Linked DNA regions of Homo sapiens: region 1 is linked to region 2. The links come from fine-mapping of genetic effects on gene expression. A gene starts in region 2. The other region holds a variant in brackets. All regions are shown on one strand. Distances are from middle to middle.

Region 1 (11,129 bases), 27 kb before region 2:
ACAAGAGCCTGGGAGCCCCAAGGGCCCATCTCGGGCTCTTTCCACTGTTACCACTTATATCAATTCAGAATGCAGCCAGCTGAAACAAGAGAAGACAGGAATCAGCTGTCAGGGAGTCTAGACTGTTCCAGGCCTGGGTGCTGCCACCTGAGCCGAACGCTTTTGTCTCTTTGCTCTGCTGTCCTGACCATGCGGTCCTTTTCCTTGTGCTTCTTGCTCCATTTTCCAGCGATCCTGTCCACTTTCCGGGCAGGAAGAGGGAGACGGGCTCCGGGGCAATGGGCTGTGCTAGCTGTTTGTTCCTCCTAAACAGCTGCCCTGAAACTTCTCAGGTTTCTTCAGCCAGAACCGAGTTGCCTGGGCACGCAGGAGTGAGTATTTGTACTTGGGCACGCTGCCACCCGAACAAAACTGGAGTCTGCTAGACAGGAAGAAGGGGAGAAGACCAGCAGCAGAGTCTGCCACAAGTTGTTGGATGGGGATCTTGGCTAAGGATGCCCTGCCCGGTAAACCACCAGGCCCTTCTCTTCAACCTCCAGCGACCCAAAGACTGACTTCAGTAGAGCAGATAACATTTGTTTTTTCTGTAGAGTTGGAGGTTTCCAGGGACATCAGAAGCTAGGAAGGAGGAAGGGGGGTATTCCGACCACGCACCACCTTCACATGCTGATCTCTGAGTTCTCTCCTGTTCTCGAGGGCCCTGCTCGGAATTGTGAGGGTGGGGAGTGCAGGGCCAGAGGGACGGGGGAGCCGCATGCTGGGAAAGGGTGAAGTCAGAATGCCATTCTACCGACAGCCTGCGTGCTCGGAGACCCGGGCCAGGCGCTGAGGCACCTTCCCGCACATTCCACCCCTCCACATGGAGCCCACGGGGGCCACGGACACAGACCTGGCTTGTCTTCCAGGCTGGGCCCAACTTCCTCCATGAAGTTCCCTGGTTAGGGGGAACCACTCACCCTTCCCACCCAAGCCCTGGACACCTTGGGGCAGGCACCTGTTAATGCGCTCATGGGGTGTGAGCTCACATTGCCCTGAACAGTGTTCTTCAAAGTGAGGTGGCTTGACCGGCAGCATCAGACCACCTGAGAACCTGCCAGGCTGGGGTGCAATGGTGCAATCATAGCTCAGAGCTCACTGCAATCTCAAACTCCTGGGCCCAACCAATCCTCCCCTGTCAGCCTCCCGAGTAGCTGGGATCACAGGCAAACACCACCACGCCTGGCTAATTAAAAACACTTTTGTGTCTGTGTGTGTGTGTGTGTGTGTGTGTAGAGGTTGGGCCTATGTTGCCCAGGCTGGTCTTGAACTACTGGCCTCAAGCAATCCTCACATCTCAGCTTCCCAAAGTTCTGGGATTACAGGCGTGAACCACCATGCCTGGCCAATATATACATTTTTAGAGATGGGAGTCTCACTATGTTGCCCAGGCTGGCCTCAACTCCTGGGCTCAAGCAATCCTCCTGCCTCAACCTCCAAGTAGCTGGGACTACAGGCATACACCATTGCACCCAGCTTCGCAGTCTATGTTTTAATAAACCCTCAGGTGATCCTCACATACGCTCAAGGCGAGAAGCTTTGACGTATATGACTCTCCGCTGTGAAACCCAGCTTCTGGCTTGTTAGCACCAACGCAGAGGCAGCTGAGAAAGGCAGAAACAAAAAGAGCCCACCCGGCCCCTCTCACTTCAGCACAGGCAACAACCCCGTGAAGACTCAGATGTGTTTTAGTCTAAGAATTACTGTTAGAGCTAGAAATCGTCGAGGCCCCATACCCGCTTCTCAGTTTATAGATTTGGGAACTGAGATGGGGAGAGGAGAAAGTATTGGCCCAGGGTGAATACCAAAGTGGAATGAGAATTCAAGTTTCCTGAATCTTAGGTGAGTGAGCTGGTTTTTATTCCACAAAATTGGAATATCTTTTTTTTTGAGGCAGGGTCTGGTCTGGAGTGCAGTGGCACCATCACGGCTCACCGGAACCTCCACCTCCCAGGCACAAGTGATCCTCCCACCTCAGCCTCCCAAGTAGCTGGAGGTACAGGTGTGGGCCACCACACTGGGCTAATTTTTTTAAAAATTGTTTGTAGAGATGGGGTCTCACTATGTTGCCCAGACTGGTCTTAAATTCCTGGGCTCAAGCGATTCTTCCACCTCAGCCTCCCAAAGGGCTGGGTTGACAGCGGTGAGCCACCACACCCAGCCTAATTAATATATCTTTTTAAAAAATTGTAGCATTTATACCTATTGTAAATGTTGTGTGAATCTTTTTCAAGAATGTTGTCCTGAGGAACACATCCTCATTGTAAACAGTCAAGAACACCTGGGGAGGAGTCTGAAGCTGGGGGTGACGGCTTGTGCCGTGTGGGCCACAAGGCCCTGTCTATCCTGTCACTGTCCCTCCTGCACAGCAGTGTTCTTCTACCACACCACCTCGGTGGCCTCTCCAAATGAGACCAAGGGGGGCAGGGCTAGTAGGCCGTGTACTTACTTCTTTGTACCTTCCAGAGCGCTGAGCACAGGGCTGTGCACACAGCAGGCTGGCCGACCCCAAGCACTTGTGGGGCCTAGGACAAGAGTACCAACAGAGGCCCGCCTACCATGTGGCTCCACATTAAATGTTACAAATCAAGCTAACAAGCTATTAAAGAGAATGTGTCCTGTCCTCCTACTTTGACAAACAAACCTTTATAAAGACTCAGCAGCCTAGAATAGGAGCTGCGGACAGAACAGGCTTCCCCGCCATAGCCCACCCGCTCTCTTCCCATCCAGGCTGCAACCCACGCTTCGAGGGCCTTGCGCATTGCAGAGGACACGGCAGCCTGCTCATCACGCTCAACTACACCTCCTGCGAGAGCTTTGGCCACCTTGGGAGGCAGGATCTAGGTAAGGGGCCCTCCAGACCCTGGAAGCTGGCTCAGGGCTGTTTGAGGTATAAAGTCCAGGATCCCAGGTATCTGGAACATGGTGTGAAAAATGGGCTCTGGGGCCAGGTGCGGTGGCTCATGCCTGTAATCCCTTTGGGAGGCCTTTGGGAGGCCGAGGTGGGCGGATCACGAGGTCAGGAGTTCGAGACCATCCTGGCCAACATGGTGAAACCCCATCTCTATGAAAAATACAAAGAGTAGCCATGTGTGGTGGTGGGCGCTTGTATTTCCAGCTACTTGAGAGGCTGAGGCAGGAGAATCACTTGAACCCGGAAGGCGGAGGTTGCAGTGAGCTAAGATTGTGCCACTGAACTCCAGCTTGGGCAACAGAGCAAGACTCCGTTTCAAAAAAAGAAAAGATGACCCCTGAGTGAACGCATCCCTTTTCCCTGTGATTGCTCCCTCTGTGGGTGGGGTGTGGGGTGTGGTCTGGGGGAGGCCTCTGAAGGCTTGCTTCTCAAAGTGTGGTCCCTGGACCACCAGCACAGGCACCACCTGGGAGCTGGTCTGAACTGCAGACTCTCAGTCTCATGCTGGCCCTTCTGAACCAGAGTCTACATTTTAACAAGATCCCCAGGCAGTTAATGTGCACATCAAGGTCTGAAAAGCACTGCTTGAAAGCACAAAACCGAGGACTAGAATCCCTCTTGCCTAGGTCTAGGGGTGGTACTGACAAGTAGGTATCAGTAAGTATTTGCTCAACAAATGGCCAATAGCCCTACAACAGGCCTGGTAGCCATGGGGGTGCTGGGGCATGGCTGCCTGACTCACAAGGATTTCATTTCCTTTTTCTGGGGCCTCGGTGGCCATGTGTCCGCTATACACCCTGCTTCTGGCCTGTGCTGACTGGTCCAGTGGTAGATGCCTGACGCACACTGGGCCAATCAGATGATCTCTCCCAGGAATTCCAAATTGAAGACAAGAAAACAGGCTCTGGAGTAATAGCAGTAGTGACAGTGAACATCCTTCCTGCACCCACCGTGTGCCAAGCACTGTGCTGAGTGTTTTGTGTCTTAGACTCTATGCCATGTGCCAAGCACTGTGCTGAGTGTTTTGTGTCTTAGACTCTATGCCGTGTGCCAAGCACTGTGCTGAGTGTTTTGTGTCTTAGACTCTATGCCGTGTGCCAAGCACTGTGCTGAGTGTTTTGTGTCTTAGACTCTATGCCGTGTGCCAAGCACTGTGCTGAGTGTTTTGTGTCTTAGACTCTATGCCGTGTGCCAAGCACTGTGCAGTGTTTTGTGTCTTAGTCTCTATGCCGTGTGCCAAGCACTGTGCTGAGTGTTTTGCATCTTAGACTGGATCTTCACAACCACCTCACCAAGCTGGTGATCGTACTGTGTGTTTTTCAGATGAGGGGCTAGGGTGCCCAAAGGTTAACTTTCCTTTCCAGAAGTTCAGGGTAGGGAAGTGGTAGCATGAGGCGAGCTGGAGTGACTGTGCAGCTGAGACTCGTCCATGTGATGCAGAGACAAAGTCGGTCAACTCTGGCCATCCAGGTCCCCAGGAATTGACTGGCTTTGTGATAACTGAGCCGACTTCATGGAAAATGGCCTGTGTGCAGTGGTGGGCAAGACCTGGCTCTGGGAGATGGCCACAGCGGCGAGGGGTGGTGGTGTGGGGGCCAAGTGAAGCCATGAGAGAGGGAAGCAGAGAAAACCTCCCCTTCCAGAGGGAGAGCAGAGCACTGATGAAGACCAGCCGGGCCCACCCCCACCTCAGTAGATACCACAGAGCACCCACTGTAGGGTCTCTGGGAGATCCGCTCCCCACGCCCCCCTCCAGTGAGTTAGCAGCGAGCTTGCCAGAGAAAAGATGTGGGCCGCTTATTTTGGAGGTGTGGGGCAGGGGGCAGCAGAGAAGTTTGCACCCTTCTCTGCACCCATCCACAGAAGGGCAGACACCCCAGAGCCTGATGGGGTGGAGGCAGCTGGAATGTGCCAGGGCAGCGGAGGCCCTGCAAGAGCCAGAGAACCAGTCCAGGTCGAAGAAGGGCGCGGGGGGCCTCACTGACTAGAGGATGAGAGTGGTCCCTGACTGGCTCTTGGAGAATGGAATCTGCCCTTCTCGGTGGAGCAGGTAGGCCTTTGAGTGCCTAACAAAACGAAAGAAATCGGCAGCAGAAGTTTCTATCAGGGTCCAAGCCTCTGCATGTGCTGGCTTGTTTGGCTTTATTTTAGAAACCAACCAACATGTTTCATTAGCACTGACACAGCAGGGGTCCCCTGCTGCCACCTGACAATCCAGCGTCACTTACACTGCACCCACGCAGGCCACACCTTCAATGGCCACGGCACGCTAGCCCAGAGTTAGCCACACAGAAACACACTTCTCACCGCACAAAACTCCCTTTTGAAAAAACCAAGCAATCGTCAGGTCGGAGGAGAATCACTAGCCCCCCACAGCGAGAGGGGACAAAGCTTGGTGGCCGAGGCCCAGGTCCTTGTGGCCCCTCCCGGTGGGGTGAAGGTGCCCGGGACTCCTCGGGGTTGCATGGCTACAGCCGGGGCGCTGCCAGGGCCTCCTCTGCGGCTGAGAGATGGAAGGGATCCTTCCCGACGCCCGCAGGTGGGGGCGAGCCACCGGGAACCGGGCC[T/C]GTCACCAGCATCCCCGAGCCCCCGCAGACCGGAATGCAAATGGCTCCGCGCCCACGCGGCTCCCGGTCTGCTGACGAGGGCTGCCTGCTCCCATTTCTTCTCTTCCTCTTCATTTTTTTTAAGGGCTGCCAGTTCTGGAAACTTTTTCTGGCTTCTCAGACAACTGTGGCAAGATGGAGTAGAGAGAGGCCCCGGCCGGGCGCTTTCTGCTGCCTCGCGGAGGGGCGGGCACGGGGAGTGAGGGGTCCCCAGGCCCAGCGGGTGCGGGGCCGGGTGAGGAGACGGAGCTCACCCCCGTTCGGAACCCAGAAGCATGGCGGGTCCCCACGCGCAGCCCTTCAGGGGCCTCGGGAGCCCGCGGCCTGGGTCACCTCCGGCTCCCTTCAGGCGGGGGGCGGCTGCTGCCGCCAGGCTCGGGCGTGGGTGCGGGCGGTGGGCATCCCACGGGGGTAGGGGAGGCGAGAGCCTGAGGAGACTCGGGAGGGGGCCCGTGGACGCGGCTGGCCCGGGATGGAGCTGGCGCGGCCACAGTGGGGGACGAGGCAGGGCACGCGGCGTTCCCCGGGCTCGGCCTCCCTCCCAGCGCACGGGCGGTCGGAGGAACTGGAGCCCCCACCCCGGACACGGTCCCGCGGGCGAAGGCTTCTCCCCGTCGCCCCGGTCCGGCCTCCCTCCCGCCGCCGCCAGCAGAGGCCGCTGTCCCACGCGCCGGGTCCCGTTGGCGCCGGGGCCTCCTGGGACGGCCTGGCCGCGGCCTGCGGGTGTAGGCGCCTCGGCGGCCACCGCGTCCCCAGGGGGCCTCGCGGACGGGGGCGCGGGGCTGCGGGGAGGAGGCGGGCGGGCCCCTCGGGCGACACCGCGGGGCGGGCGGCGGGAAGCCCGGACTCAGCGGTTTCCTGGGCAACCGGCCTCCTCCGGCGCGGCCCGCGCGGCTCCAGGTGGCGGGAGGCGGCGGTTGGCGGGAAGGGCCGCGCGGGCCCGGGGGCGGCGCCTCAGGTAGCAGCGCCAGGTGGCGCCCGTGGGCGGCGGGGCTCCCGGGGAGGCGCCTGCTCCCGCCCACGCCGGGCCCGGCCTTCGCGAGCTTCCTTCTGGATTCCAGCGCGAAGCCGCCGCGGAAACTCCCCGGGCGGGCATCGGAGCTCTGGGGCGGGGCGGCCGGGCTCAGAGGGCGGGCGGGAGCAGGCGGGCGGCGAGGGCGGGCAGCAGCAGCGGGAGCAGGGGCGCCCCGGGCGCCGGGGCCGCTGGGGACGAACGCGGCGGGTCAGGCCCCGAAGCCCGGGCCGCGGTGGCCGCCTCAGGCGCCCGCTCTGGGGTGGGGGTGGGGGCATCTTTCGGGACCGAACTCGCCGCAGCCTCCCTCTTTGTGCTCCTTTCCCCTGCTGCCCTTCCAGATGCGCTCTTTCCAGAAAGGCAGCACACGCATGTCTCTGCCGTGGCCCCAGATCCTCCCCGCGCCGCCGTTTTGAGCGTTCACACTCATTACCCAGGTCCGTCTGGGAGACCCGCCGGGCTCCCGCCCTCCCGGCCCGCAGCCTCCTGGCCAAAATCCTCCCGGGACACCCCACCTGGACTGCTGCGAACGGGCCTCCACCCGCCTCCCCGGACCCGCAGCGCCCCCCGCTCCCTCAGGGTTCTGGGGTGAAGGGGTCTGAATAGCACCAGGGGAGGCGGCAGGGCGGGCCTGTCCTACCTGCGCCCGAGCACTGCTGAGACGACATCCCTTCCAGCGCCGCCACGTAGTCCAGCCCCAGCCAGCCGCGGTAGGTGGTTTTCTCTCCGACAGGCACCGCCCGGACGGTGGCATCCTTGAAAAGCAGGTCTTGGCCATGATAGTTGGAGGAGTCGAACATTTTGAACCCGTTCTTATTGTGGTCGTCTCCAAACAGGTCCTGGAAGCACCGCAGGCAGACGACCTGCTCCTCACTGGGCTCAGGCAGGGTCACCCGCCCAGTGCCGCTAGCTGCAAATTGCTTTACATACAGTGACCCAAAGAGCAAGTCATTTCAGGGCCCCACCACTCTGATTGGAAGTCATAAGCTTGACAACTGATTGGCCTCTGTCACCCAAGCGGGTGTGGGGACACTAGGCCCGCAGGTGCCACTGGAAGAGGCGTTCAGAAGCACTGCGGTGCTCCAGCTCCTGGATGCAGGTCTGAGGCCTGAGATGTCCAGGAAGAAAGACCCAGAAATGAGGGATGGTGTGGGTGGGATTCCTGAGCGTTCTGCTAGGCCTGCTGAGCACTTCTTGGCCTTTTCCATAAGGCTTTCTCACTCTGTCTTACAGATATCTCCCCACAAACCTAAACAATTTCGAGAGGGACTTGTGTTCTGCAACCAGTCACAGAATATCAGGTGAGCTGGGCGTGTCTTCACTGACCCACCCGCCCAGGGATGCTGCACTCCTCTCCACCCTGCTCAGAATCACTAGAATGACCGTTCTGTGGCTACAGCCCTAAAAGAGCTACTAAAAAGACCAGAAGTAGTATGAGAACTTATGAATACGAATATAAATAAAGGACATCTGGAGAACATGCATGAATGTCTATGTAAAGTGTTAAGTACTGATCAAGGAGGAACGAAGGAGTCAGGTGGCTCTCAGTCTTTTTGGAGGGACTCGCAGATCCTCCTGAAGATCTGATGAAAGCTGTCAGCCTTCTCCCCAGAAAAATGCACATCCACCCAGGATTCTTCTCCCACATTACTTCAGAGGACTTAGCAACCCCCTAGGGAAGCCCAGGGACCCAGAGTAAAGCACTCCTGGGATAGAGGGGTTCTGTGGGGAAGATGACAGGAAGGAACATGCGTCAGTTCACAATGTCAAAGTTTAGGAACAGGCCTGGCGAGCCAGCCAGCTCTGCAGTTCTGTGGTGCTGGTGGGTGTGGAGAAGGCAATTTCAGCATAAGTCGGGGGAGGGGGAGTGGTTAGAAACCAGTGGCTCCATTGTGAGACAACCTGGGTTTAAATTCTAGGTATATTTTGAAAGCACAACCAATGGGATCTGCTGATAGATTGGCTGTAGAGCACGAGAGGAAGACCGGAGTCAAAAATGACTCCCGAGGAAATGGAAAAGCTAAAGTTGCTCTTAATTGAAGTGGGGAAGACTGAAGGAGGGACGGGGGTCCAACTTTGGACTTGATCCATTTGAGATGACTGTTAGAAACACAAGTCAAAATGTCAAGTATGTAGTTAAATATGCAAGTTTGGGACTGATGTCTGAAGATGTAAATTTAGAAGCCATCTGTATATAGATGGTATTTGATGACATGGGATTGGATGAGATCAAGGGTAAGCTGTAGACAGGGAAGAGGGCTGAGAACTGAATCCTAGGGCTAACAGGTCAGGGAGATGGGGAGGAAATCAGCAGAGAAGACTGAGGAGTGGCCAGAGAGTGAGAGGACAGCCAGGCAGGGCTGAGGACCTGGGCATCTGCAGGGGAAGGTGTTTCCAGGAGGAGGGAGAGCTGTGGCCAGTGCCACTGAGAGGTCAAGTAAAATGAAGACTGAGAAATGGCCACTGGGTTTAGCAACATGGGTCACTGTGACCTTGACAAGAACAGCTTCAGGGCCCTGGTGGGAGCCTGTCTGGGGTAGTCTCCATCCTTAAGAGGGGCCAGAGGAGAGGACTTGCTAACTCAGTCTCCATCCTTAAGAGAGGCCAGAGGAGAGGACTTGTTAACTCCAGAGCAGACCACTCTTTGGAGGAGTTTTGCTTCGAAAGGGAGCAGGATTGGCCGGGCACAGTGGCTCATGCCTGTAATCCCAGCACTTTGGGAGGCCGAGGTGGGCGGATCACGAGGTCAGGAGATCGAGACCATCCTGGCTAACACGGTGAAACCCCTTCTCTACTAAAAAATAGAAAAAATTAGCCAGGCATGGTGGCGGGTGCCTGTAGTCCCAGCTACTCAGGAGGCTGAGGTGGGAGAATGGCGTGAACCCGGGAGGCGGAGCTTGCAGTGAGCCGAGATAGTGCCACTGCACTCCAGCCTGGGGCGACAGAGTAAGACTCCGTCTCAAAAAAAAAAGAAAAAAAGGGAGCAGGATTACAGCTGCAAGAGGATGGATGTGAGACCAAGAGGTTAGTTTGTTCTTTAAGGATGGCAGAAGTCACAGCATGTTTCATGTTGGTGAAAATGGTCCGACTGAGAAGGGAAAATCAACGATGCAGGAGGCAGAGGGGACAGTTTCTGGAGGGATGTCCTTGCGTAAGTGAAAATCACAGAATTTCCCCCGGGCTTCCTCAATTTCTCTAGAGGTCTGCTCCAGGTAGACTGAGGCCTCCCAGGGGCTCAGCTTACCTCTGCTGCACACCCCTCAATGAGGTAGCCCCACCCTGGCTCACCTGGGCCTTGTCCAGCAGTCCATACACGGTGAAGATGTTGGTGTCGGGCCGGACCATCACGGCGTGGGGTGGTATCTGTGCCAGGTTGCAGGCTGCAAACTGGGACACCTCGGCTCGGGCCCCGTTGGGGCACAGCAGTTCATAGTCCTCTGACCTGAGCTCAGCAGCCCAGGGCTCGGAATTGTGGCCTGAGGGGGGTAAAGCAGTGTGTGTGGGGACGTTCCGGGAGTGGAGAGAAGTGTAAAGAGAAGCTGCTATCCTGGGACCCCAAGGCCTTCACCACAGGGAGGTGGCAACATCTGGCCAGCTCCCCAACCCTCTCCATTCTCCACGTGCTCTGCTGTGTTACCGGGGTGAAAGAACCCAGCTGTGTTCATGCCATTAGCAGGAGCTGCCATTAATTAGCAGGGAGTAGGGAGTACCTACTATGTGACAAGTACTTTACACGCGTTGCTTGATCCCCACAACAGTAACGCAGGGTAGGTGTTTTTGTCCCCATTTTACAGGTGAGGAAACTGAGGCTGTTAATCACTCCCAGGCAGAGAACCCCATCTATGTGTTACATCCTCAAGCCTGAGTGTGGGGTGGCTCCCTGAAGGTGGTGGGTGATTGTCCCTAAGGGCTGAAGTTCTCAAATGGAACAGGGTATAGCATCACTTGTGGATGCAGAAGGCAGCTTCAAGGGCCCTTGCTTGCAAAGAATCTTATTCAGGAGGTCTCAGATCAGGCTCAAGAATCTGCATGTTAAACCAGCATCCCACTGATTCTAAAGCAGGCGGTCTCGGGCTGCCTGAGAAAATGCTGCCCTCAGGAATCACATTTTCATGTCTCTGTGCATTCACTTAGTATCCATCCTCCTCCCATTTCCAGGAAATCCAGGTGGGCCTTGAGGAGAGCTAAAGATAAAAGGGAAAGGAGTGGCCCTGGGAGGCGGGTGACTCACTGCAAGTGAACCTCCCAAGGCCTCTCCAGCACCTGCCCGCCTCCCCTGACCCCATCCCAGACGACACCATGCACAGATCTGGGACCAGGCAGGCCCGCTGGGCTCGTGCAGGAGCACACAGCCCCTCCCTGGGGGAGGGTTTCAGGTGTTCTTGGTAGGAGGCTGGGTGGGGGAGCTGGGCTGTGGCAACAGGAAGGGTTCAGGGCCTGGAGCCCTCCCTAGCTCTGCTGGGGCAAATGGTCCTACCGCCTTGGTGACCCCCATAGGAGGCAAGATCCAAGTTTTGAAACACTAACTGAGGTTTTCGTTTTTTTCCCTGCACGTCTTGCT
Region 2 (11,129 bases):
GGGAAATAAAGAATTATTGAAGATCACTGATGGGTAGACAACCCTTCTCACGGCACAGGGAGGGAGGCACACGCCCGGCGGCCAGCCTCACGGGGGACGAGGTCAGGGTCTGCCGCCCTGCATGGTTCTTCCGGCCCTGCCAGCACCAAAACCCACAAGTATTTATCCTGTGCCGCGCGAGGAGGCCCTGCTGCTGGCACCTGAGCCAGTCGGGCCACGCTCATCGCCAGCCAGACTGAGCTTTTCCAGAGTAAGCCCTCTTCCTGGTTTTTTTTTTGTGACCTCCCAGAGGAGTAGATATTTAATAAATATGCCAAGTGCCTGGTGAGCCACTCACACCTGGCCACCAGCTGAGAGGGTGAGGCTTCCAGGCTCTCGCGGGTTTACACGGCTGGTTGGGCTGATGAGCCACTTGGGAGCTTTCTGGGTGCAAGTCGGCACCTCGTTTGGGTCCTGAAAAAATAGCATTTCTGGTCCTGTAAAGCCGAGGACACATTTCTAGACACAGTGACCTGCGCCCGGTCTATACTGGTGGGAAGCACTCCTGGGAGATTCACTGCTTCCCACTCATGGGCTGGGCCTGTGCCTGGCTGTGCCATGTGGGACACCACGATGCGTGAGCAAGAATCGCGCCCCACAGGGTCCAAGCAAGCAGGAAGTCAAGCGGCGGCGCCGGCGGCAGAGTGGAGGCGGGGGAGGCACGGGGCGGGCGGGGGCTGCTGCGCCTTCCAGGAATGAAGAATGGTGGCGAGGCCGGAGGGAGGCTACCCAGTGAAGGGACGAGCATGGGCCAAGGAAAGGAGGGGGAGGCCTGGGGACCCTCCTGCCCAGCCCAAAGCCCTCACCTTTGAGTACATCGCAGCCCATCACCGAGAGGCGGCCGCTCTCCACCAGGTAGCCCACGGGCACGTTCCAGCCCACTGTGCGATTGATGCCCGTGTGGCAGGACTTCACGCCTTTCAGGGTGTCAATGGTCACATGGGAGCTCCTCCTGACCACAGCCACGGCGTAATAGGAGGTACCGACCTCTAGGAGGGGAGGGGAGTGGGTGAGGGCAGCAGGGAGAGGCCTCGAGAGAGGCTGCACCAGCACCCTGCCTGGGCGGGCTGTGGGAGAGGTGTGTGCACGGAGCACGGCTGTACACACGGATGTGTGCATAGCGTTCTCGTTACCAAGAGAGCAAGTGGGCTTCATCTGCATGTATTAAGAGGCCCTGCCCTCTAGCCTCTTGAGGTAGAGACGATCCTGAGATATTGATGTATTCATTGATTTCCCCCTCTTCCTTCCCCAGCAGCTGGTGCTTAGCTGGGTCCACATTTGCTCACATCAGGGGAGTTATTTAGCTGGACAGAAAGCAGAAGCCAGCAAGTCCTTGCTTTCCAAGAGCCTAGGCCCCTAGGAGAACTTGGAGGGTTTGGGGGAATGGTGTCAGGGTCATGGGAAGAAGGGTGTCTGGGAGGAGCAGGGGAGCCGAGGAGGGGCTTCCCCAGATGAGGAGCGGCGATTTCCTGGTGCTGAGGGGGTTGAAGGAGAGTGAGACAGAGGCAGAGACAGAGAGAACTAGCGATGTGGCCCCAAGTCGCTCACGACCCTGAATGCTGCAGGGTGTGTGTGGTGGGGCCAGGGCTCTGCAGCCTTGCAAAGCGTTCCCCTGTGCCAAGGTGGCTCCAAGGGGCTGCTCAGGCAAAACACAGACTCAGCTGTGGGAACTGATGCCCAGAGGGTCTCCCATCGCACGGGCGCACACACGCAGGCATGCACGCGTGCACAAACTGCCCGGTGGTGTGGGAGGCCATATCAGAATGAAGTTGAGTTCTAGAACATAAAGCCAGTGTTACTTCTTGCACACCAGGGTCTGGCCCCCGCCAACCTGAGTAGCTCCGTCTGGTACCATCCTCTGACTCACCCGCCTTGTTTCTTACCAATCCTCTGGACCGCCTGAGATGGTTGCGGGGCTCAGCTTACCCATCACCTCTGCAGAGCACCGTCCTGCCTGCTCTATTTCAGTGGATTTCCCCGCAACCCTCGTTTTCTCTGTCCTGCCCTTCCCTTTTCCTCACAGCACCCCAACATGTGTCACTGTATTGTTTTGGGTGTGTTTATTTACTCTCTGCTCTGTGGGGGCAGGAAGGTCTCTTCGTTTACTGCTGCATGCTTATGACCAGCGGGTAGCAGGTGCTCAGTAGAGGTGTCGAGTTAATTAAAGAGGAAGAGGTGCGTGGGGCCTCGGAGGCAGAGCTGTTTCTGGCTGATGGGTGTGCAGGGTTGGACTGTGCCGTGTGTCATTTGATGGCCATTAATTCAACAAGGAACCAGCCAGTGCTTTCTCCAAGCGAGATGCTGTGTGGAGTTCCAGAGGGTAGACACAGGGGAAGACTGGACCCTCCTCTGAGGACTAACGAGACTGAGCAGGCAGAGGCTTGCAGAGGCCATGTGGGTGCGGGCAAGAGAGGCCCTGCTCCAGAGAGGGAGGGGCTCAGGGAGCACCTTGGAGGAGGTGACAGTTGCGCTGGACTGTGATGGAGGCCAGGCACCGGCCAAGCAGAGGTGGCGGGGGAGACACAGGAGCTGGCTGAGCTGGAGGCAGGTCCCATGTGTGATGCGGGGACTGGGCAAAGGAACTCACACTTTCCAGCACATACCACATGTCAGGTGGGCACACGGCCTGGCTCATTTAGTCTGGGTGACAGCGCAGGTGTTACTATCCCCATTATACAGTCTGGGAAGTGGAGGTTGGCCAAGGTCACAGAAGTCATGGGAAGGGGAAGGGCTGGGTCTGCTGAGCTGTGCCGCTGCCAGACAGCACCTCCCTACCCGGAGCCGGGCTTCTGAAGGGAGGCCCTGAGAGTGCAGGTGGCTCGGCATTAAGGACGCCTTGCTCACCCAAGGCAGTTACGCACACAGCACCGTGCCCGGCACCACGCCAGGCCCGGGACAGCCCGCAGTAAGAGCTGAGTGGGCACAGGCTAGGGGGCTGCTGGGCTCCCTGCGGGCAAGAGCAGACTTGGGGCAGCTCTCTGTGTCCCTGGAGCTCCTGTCCCTGGGGAATTTGAGAGAGCCTTAGGGCGTTCTTCTGGCTGGGACTCCAGGACTGCTCTGTGGACAGGGCTGATGGCCAGCTCAGGCCAGGCCCAGCAAGGGCAGCCTGGAGAGCTGACTTCCAGCGCAGGCTGTCCTCTCTCCTCCCACTGCACCCTCTTACCTTGATCGTACACTTCGCCCACCACCGGCTTCAGGCCGTGCTCCTTTCCCGCCTCATAGATGGCTCCTCCATCCAGAGTGATGGCGTCAGCCTCCTGGGCCTGCAAGGAAATGTGGCTCAGCCAAGCCTGGCCCAGCTGGCCTGCTCAGCAAAGAACTCGGGACACCTACCAGATGGCCTGGGGCCCCACCCCAAGCCCCAGAGGGCTGTGCTGTCCTTCTCATCTGTCCCAGGAGCCCAACCAGAGCCCAGGGCTCTCCCCCTTTCCCAGGCCAGGGATTCACCTTGTTTTCCTAATAATGTTAAAAAAAAAATACTAATCATTGATTTTGCAGGACTCAGATATCATAGTAAAAAAATCAGATAGCAGAAAACGGTGCGCAGTGACAAGTGAGTCTCCCTCGCTTTCTGTCCCTCCACCCTGCGCCTCTACTGCTACCCTAGGTTTTCTAGCTTTTTTTCTCTAAGGTGGTCTGTGCTTGGGGTTTCTGCCCTCACATGGAGCCTGACCCACAGCCTTGGCCCCAGTGTGGGCCTGTGATTGGATTAGGTCTTGGGGGCATATGGGGGGCAGAGCTGGAATGAAAAGCCAGCTTTCTTTGCACCCACCCAGGAGGGACGCCACTCTCTGGTGGTGCCTCGGAGGATTGTCAGTGTCATTTAGCAGTTCTCAGCAGACCTGCTCTCCTACCCCATGCTCACCCACCTGGGAGTCCAGCCCCTGCTCCTCCTTCCCCAGAAACCACACAAGCCCCATTCTGGAGAGCCCCATGGCAAGATGAGCAAGTAACCGCCTGCGGCCACTGAGGGGCCGCCACCATCTGGGCCCCCTTGGCAGGGGCCTTGTGGAAGGGAAGCCTCTCAGGTGCCTTTCTTTGCTGGCGCCCTCTGAGCAGCGGGTCCTCCTGAGGCTCCCACCTCCTGGCCTGGGCCCGGCGGGAGGCAAGCTGGCCTCGTGGCCAGGGAGACTCGGGAGATCCTATCGGCCGGGCCTGGCAGGGCGAGGTCGGCTCCTTTCCTGGTGAATGGGGCTGTTGTGTGCTCCCTCCTGAGTCACAGCCCTCTTGTCTGGCAGGGTGGAAGGGAGAGGACTCACCGCGATGAGCTGGACGCAGTGGTCGGCGGAGGTGCCCCGGACGCAGAGGAGGGAGGGCTGGATGCCCGCTTCCCGGAAGGCCTCGCTCATGTTGCCGCACTTGTGCTGCTCTGGGTCCGAGGTGGCGCACCACCGCACCTCCATGCCACCGAGCACTGCGGGCAGGGGACCGTGAGGCCCGGCTCCCCCGCCCTGCCCAGCCCCGGCCCACCATGGAGGGTGGCTCCAGCAGTTCTGTGTGAGCCCATTCGCCTGGACAGCCAGTCCTCTAGGGCAGCCCTGCCCTCCCACAGGGAGGCACTAGGCGCAGAGACAGGGGAAGGGCTGGTATTCCTGTGCTCAGGGCCTCTCTGACCAGGAGCACGGCTGCTGGCAAATGGAATGGCTCAGAACCCGGCCCTTTATGGAGGAATGGGAGGGTCTACAGGTCGCTTCTCAGCTACCCCCACCTGGTGGGAGCACTGGCTAGGGAGTCTCGGCAGGCCCTGGAAGTGGAAGCTTCTTCCCCTCTCCAGGCCTCCCGAAGAGGGTGCTCGTGTAGGTTCCCTCACCCAGCAGTGTCCCTGGGCCTTCCTCATGAACTGGGACGGGAGAGTGAGGTGAGGGGGCTGTGGGTGGGCTGCCCTCCAGGAGCCCTGTCCCCTCGGGGAGTGTCTGCGATGATGCTGGCTGCAAAGCCACCCTCGGTGGGCACAGTGCCAGGCCCTGCCAAGGGAAGACGGCAGGCACAGAGGGGAGGCTGAGGACCCATCAGGGTAGGTTCAAGCCTCTCTGAGCCTGCTTCATCTTCTGAGAGAGCAGATAAAAACCCCACCTTCTGTGTTGAAAGTAAACCCCCTTGTAGAGAGCCTGAGACACCCACATCCTCAGTGGACTTCTGCTTATGCCTCAGGATCTGACCGGGTCAGAGTCCCCGAGAGCTCCCAGGCTAGGGGCCCAGAGGAAGGGGTGCTGGAGCCCCTTGGGGCCGATGACTTTCAGGCCTGAGCTCCTCTGCCATTCACCCTGCCCCAGCCAGCACTGCCAGAGGCCTGTGCAGGAGGGAGGGAAACGCATGACTCCGCCCGAAACCAGGTCACCCTCCCGTGGCAGCCCCACCAGCCCAAGGGCCGAGACTGAAGCTTCCGCCACAGCCCTCCCCTCCCCACTCCTGGCGGAGGCCTGGGAAGTCGAACTGCCCTCCCCTCCGCAGCGCTCCAAGCCCCCCACCACCCAGGCGGGAAACTGCAAAGTTCAGACGGGGCGGGGGTGGCGGTGGCTTCATCGTTTGCATTGATGAGTGCGTCGCCTGCGGCCACAGCGGTGCCACGAACTCCATCCCCTCGGCGGTCGCCGCCCGCGATCCCCGCGAGCCGCTCCCCGAGGTCCCGCCTCCCGTCCCACCATCCCGGGCCCTGACTCCCCGGGGCGCCGACGCGAGGGGACCCGGCCTCCGTCTCCACCTCCATCCCTGCATGTGCCAGAAACCCCCGGGCGGACTCCCGCGCCTGCCGGTCAGTCCCTCTGAATCTTCTCCCGCGGGGGCTCGGGAGAAAGAGCTGCTCCGAGCCCCCAAAGTCTTCCTGAGTTCCTGCGCCCGTCGGGAGGGGCCGCCCTCCGGGAGCTCCTCTCCACACCCCGAGGCCTCCCCACCACGCCTCAGCCCGCGCTTCTCCTTGGAGCGTCGGAAGCCTCGGGTGTTCGAGGCCGCCTCCTCCAAGAAGCCTTCCAGACTTCCCCGTCTGCGCTTCAGTGCTAGTTCCCTCCGCCGTCCTCACTCGACCCCGAGCCCCTGCCTCCCCCGTCTCACTGCCCCGGAGCCGCAGGCTCAGGCACATTTCCAGCCCCGGGACCTGCTCAGCCGGGCCGCGGCGCCCCGGGACCCCCGCCCGCCTTTGGCTCTCACAGCGGGGCCTCACCGGTGCGCAGAGCCAGGAGCAGCCACAGAGCCCCGCTCGGACCCCGCATGGCGCCGTCGGGGCTGGCTGGGGCCGGGCTGGGGCTGGGTCCGGGTCCGAGGAGGTCCGCAGCAGCCGGGCTTCCTCCCTGCTCCCCCTCGCGCTGGCCCGAGCTCCTTAAGTGCGGCCGCGAGTTCCCGGGCGGAATCCACGCCCCTGGGGCGCAGGTCACCTCCCGCCGACCCCGGACCCCGCCCCTGGGCGGCCCCGGCGCGCCCCCTGCTGGAGGCCTCCCGCTCGGGCCCGGGCGCCGCTGCTCGGGGCTCTCGCCTCAGCCTCCTACCCCGCGTTCCAGGGTATCCTCCCCTCCTCGCGCCCTAGAAAGACTCCAGATACCGTGTCTAACTGGAGAGAGAAAAGCTCAGACGTGGAAGGAAGGAGAGGTCAGAATCCCAGAGTCGGGGCTGGAGGGCAGCTGGAGGATGATCTCATTCACGCAGCAGCTCCCTCCCAGCACAGCTGCACAGAGGATCTGGGATACGGGGGAGCCCAGGCCGAGCGCCCTGGCGAGGGGGGAGCCGGGCAGGGGCATCTCGGCCACAGCTGCACAGAGGATCTGGGATACGGGGGAGCCCAGGCCGAGCGCCCTGGCGAGGGGGGAGCCGGGCAGGGGCATCTCGGCCACAGCTGCACAGAGGATCTGGGATACGGGGGAGCCCAGGCCGAGCGCCCTGGCGAGGGGGGAGCCGGGCAGGGGCATCTCGGCCACAGCTGCACAGAGGATCTGGGATACGGGGGAGCCCAGGCCGAGCGCCCTGGCGAGGGGGGAGCCGGGCAGGGGCATCTCGGCCTAGCCGACTGCCTCTCCTCGGGCCTAGAGACGGGAGGTGACTTGCCCGAGTCAGGCATCCAGTCAGTGGCAGAGCCAGCTGATTGGAAGGTGAGAAGAGGACCAGAGAGGAATTGGAGGAAGCGGAAAAGGAGAAACAGGCGGAGAAGGGGAGGAAGAGAGTGAAGAAGGTGAGGGAGGAAAGGGTGGGTTGACCGTATTTCTAGGACAGTGGTTCTCAGTGTGGTCCCTAGGCCAGCAACGTGAGCATCACCCTGGAACTTGCTGGAAATGCAAGTGCTCAGGCCCCACCTCCGACCCACTGGATCGACAGCTCTGGGGGCGGGGCCCACAATCTGTTTTTATTTCGGGGCACAGCAAATGTTGAGAACCACTGTCGCAGGCGGGCAAAAGCGGCACTCCCCATGTGGTTGGGGATGCGGGGAATGAACTGAAGACATTGTTAGTCACCTGCCTCCATTTAGGCCTCACCTTTATGTCATCAGCCCCTCTGAGACTCAGAAATGATGTCTCTCTCTGACATGGGTAAGTACAACAGTGAGAGAGAAGACATCCCTCTGAGTTTGTCTGTCCTTGAGCTTGCTCTGCGCCCTGGGGAAGGAAGGCCTCCCTCCTATGGGGCCATGAAGCTACTGCTTATCACACACTGGATCAGGGGAAGGAACATGGGCTGGGCTTCAGGAGACTCGAGCTCTACTTTTTAAAAACCAGCGACTTACAGACCCTGGGCGAGTTCGTCGCCCTCTCTGGGCTTGTTCCCCACATGTAAAAGGTAGGTCATGATGGCCGTGACGTGCCATACTTTCCGTCTCCTGTCTGCTCTGGAGGACTTGTGCTGTGGAAGCTGTTTCTCCATCCCCCCAGATGGATCCCTTCTTCCTAGTTTGCACAAAGGTGCCGAATGGACTAGCAGGCAGCCTTGCTAGAGGGGCTGATGGCTTGTCCTAAGAAGATGGAATAAATAGAAGAGTCCTTAACAAGCCTCGTTCTCCTGACCACGAGGATAGAAAGGCTCAGTTGGCACACTCCAGGAGCCACCAGATGACTGGCAGGATCTGTTTGATGACTAAGTCCTTCCTTTGGCAAAACTCCACGTGACGCTGATAGGGAGTGAGAACAACCATAACCTAAGAGGTTTGCTGGGCTCTTTCACAATGAAGTTCTTCCCTTATCTCTTGGGTGTCATTCAGCTGTGACTCATCAGTGAACTTGCTGCCTCTGGGTTCTCAGGGATTCTACATCGGGCCCGTTGGCCCAGGGTTGGCATGAACGCGCATCACCTTTGTGGAATGGGGAAGTCTGCCTCAGCTTGAGCCAGGATTCTGCCATTTCTGGGGTCCGGACATACTTGGGTGTGCCAGAGAAATGGGTGGGATGTAATGAGAGAGTAATAAGCCAGTAGTTTAACCCACAAACAGCCTTCTGGAGGAGCAGAAGCTGAGGTTAGTTTGGTCCCCATTCTAGACTCATATTGAGATTAGAGGGAGAGCATACAGACTAAAGGAACTGGTTTCACTGACACTTCGATCAGATTCTGGGGCCTAAGCAGCTCTGCCTGAGTCTCCCTGACCCTACCCCATAATATGAAATAAAAAGAGCTCTTCTCCACTCTTGCCAAAGACACAGCTCTGGCTCTCCAAGGATTCAGAGTGCCCAGAAGCATTGAGCTTGCTTGTCAGGGAATCGAGGAACAGTACATCCCATGGAGGGAATACACTACAGGCAGCCTCAGAAAGTGGGGGCCTTTGACAGGAGACTGAGAAGGTCCATCAGCAGGTAGTGGCTAATGAGCCAGCAAAGGGTGAAATCCTTTACCCAAAACGAAGTAAAATATTGTACTTAGGAAAAAATATTTTTCAACAAATCATAATTTCTGTCTGTCTATTTCTATGGCCCGCAATGTCTTTAAGAACAAGCCAAATAGTTTTTATTCTGGGGAACCCTTGGAAGGCTGGTGTGCCCTGAGAAAGTTTGGGTGTGAGCACCTGCAGTAGTGTGATGTCAGAGGATGTTACGCTCTTGCTGACTGGTTGGGGTGTCAGCACCTGCAGTCGTGTGATGTCAGAAGATTTTACACTCTTGCTGACTGGTTGTGGTGTGAGCACCTGCAGTAGTGTGATGTCAGAGGATGTTACCCTCTTGCTGACTTGTTGGGGTGTGAGCACCTGAAGTAGTGTGATGTCAGAGGATGTTACACTCTTGCTGATGGGTTGGGGTGTGAGCACCTGCAGTCGTGTGATGTCAGAAGATTTTACACTCTTGCTGACTGGTTGGGGTGTCAGCACCTGCAGTAGTGTGATGTCAGAGGATGTTACACTCTTGCTGACTGGTTGGGACATGAGCACCTGCAGTAGTGTGATGTCAGAGGATGTTACACTCTTGCTGATGGGTTGGGTGTGAGCACCTGAAGTAGTGTGATGTCAGAAGATTTTACACTCTTGCTGACTGGTTGGGGTGTGAGCACCTGCAGTAGTGTGATGTCAGAGGATGTTACCTCTCTTGCTGACTGGTTGGGGTGTGAGCACCTGCAGTCGTGTGATGTCAGAAGATTTTACACTCTTGCTGACTGGTTGGGGTGTGAGCACCTGCAGTAGTGTGATGTCAGAGGATGTTACACTCTTGCTGACTGGTTACTGTGTGAGCACCTGCTGTAGTGTGATGTCAGAGGATGTTACACTCTTGCTGACGGGTTGGGGTGTCAGCATCTGCAGTAGTGTGATGTCAGAGGATGTTACCCTCTTGCTGACTTGTTGGGGTGTGAGCACCTGCAGTAGTGTGATGTCAGAGGATGTTACACTCTTGCTGATGGGTTGGGGTGTGAGCATCTGCAGTAGTGTGATGTCACAGGATGTTACGCTCTTGCTGACTGGTTGGGACGTTAGCACCTGCAGTAGTGTGATGTCACAGGATGTTACACTCTTGCTGACTGGTTGGGGTGTGAGCACCTGCAGTAGTGTGATGTCAGAGGATGTTACACTCTTGCTGACTGGTTTGGGTGTGAGCACCTGCAGTAGTGTGATGTCAGAGGATGTTACACTCTTGCTGACGGGTTGGCGTGTGAGCACCTGCAGTAGTGTGATGTCAGAGGATGTTACTCTCTTGCTGACTGGTTTGGGTGTGAGCACCTGCAGTAGTGTGATGTCAGAGGATGTTACACTCTTGCCAACTGGTTGGGGTGTGAGCATCTGCAGTAGTGTGATGTCAGAGGATGTTACACTCTTGCCAACTGGTTGGGGTGTGAGCATCTGCAGTAGTGTGATGTCAGAGGATGTTACTCTCTTGCTGACTGGTTACTGTGTGAGCACCTGCAGTAGTGTGATGTCAGAGGATGTTACACTCTTGCTGACTGGTTGGGTGTGAGCACCTGCAGTCGTGTGATGTCAGAAGATTTTACACTCTTGCTGACTGGTTGTGGTGTGAGCACCTGCAGTAGTGTGATGTCAGAGCATGTTACACTCTTGCTGACTGGTTGGGTGTGAGCACCTGCAGTCGTGTGATGTCAGAGGATGTTACACTCTTGCTGACTGGTTGGGGTGAGTACCTGCAGTAGTGTGATGTCAGAGGATGTTACACTCTTGCTGACTGGTTGGGACATGAGCACCTGCAGTAGTGTGATGTCAGAGGATGTTACGCTCTTGCTGGCTGGTTGGGGTGTGAGCACCTGCAGTGGTGTGATGTCAGAGGATGTTACTCTCCTGCTGACGGGATGGGATGTGAGCACCTGCAGTAGTGTGATGTCAGAGGATGTTACGCTCTTGCTGACTGGTTGGGGTGTGAGCACCTGCAGTAGTGTGATGTCAGAGGATGTTACTCTCTTGCTGACTGGTTGGGGTGTGAGCACCTGCAGTAGTGTGATGTCAGAGGATGTTACGCTCTTGCTGGCTGGTTGGGGTGTGAGCACCTGCAGTGGTGTGATGTCAGAGGATGTTACTCTCCTGCTGACGGGATGGGATGTGAGCACCTGCAGTAGTGTGATGTCAGAGGATGTTACGCTCTTGCTGACTGGTTGGGGTGTGAGCACCTGCAGTAGTGTGATGTCAGAGGATGTTACTCTCTTGCTGACTGGTTACTGTGTGAGCACCTGCTGTAGTGTGATGTCAGAGG

Evidence for each region.
Region 1: its variant is fine-mapped to the expression of MELTF in nasal epithelium (TOPMed, PIP above 0.99).

Annotation. Positions count from the first base shown.
Region 1 is chr3:196,996,693-197,007,821 of GRCh38, forward strand. It overlaps MELTF (melanotransferrin), which reads right to left. Exons shown (of 16, transcript NM_005929.6): 14 at 9,857-10,044; 15 at 7,209-7,407; 16 at 5,048-6,759. The coding sequence ends at 6,680. MELTF-AS1 (MELTF antisense RNA 1) reads left to right here and starts at 6,214. Exons shown (of 4, transcript NR_038285.1): 1 at 6,214-6,281; 2 at 6,910-7,278; 3 at 7,405-7,667; 4 at 7,802-8,052. It also overlaps the pseudogene RPSAP30. RefSeq lists silencers at 5,713-5,792, 5,943-6,732, 6,773-7,172. The variant T/C (reference allele first, on the strand shown) is at 5,518.
Region 2 is chr3:197,023,458-197,034,586 of GRCh38, forward strand. MELTF (melanotransferrin) reads right to left here and starts at 6,360. Exons shown (of 16, transcript NM_005929.6): 1 at 6,197-6,360; 2 at 4,299-4,453; 3 at 3,203-3,302; 4 at 846-1,028. The coding sequence starts at 6,245. RefSeq lists silencers at 5,623-5,802, 5,993-6,042, 6,093-6,582 and enhancers at 6,116-6,752, 6,753-7,389, 7,777-8,976, 8,081-8,375.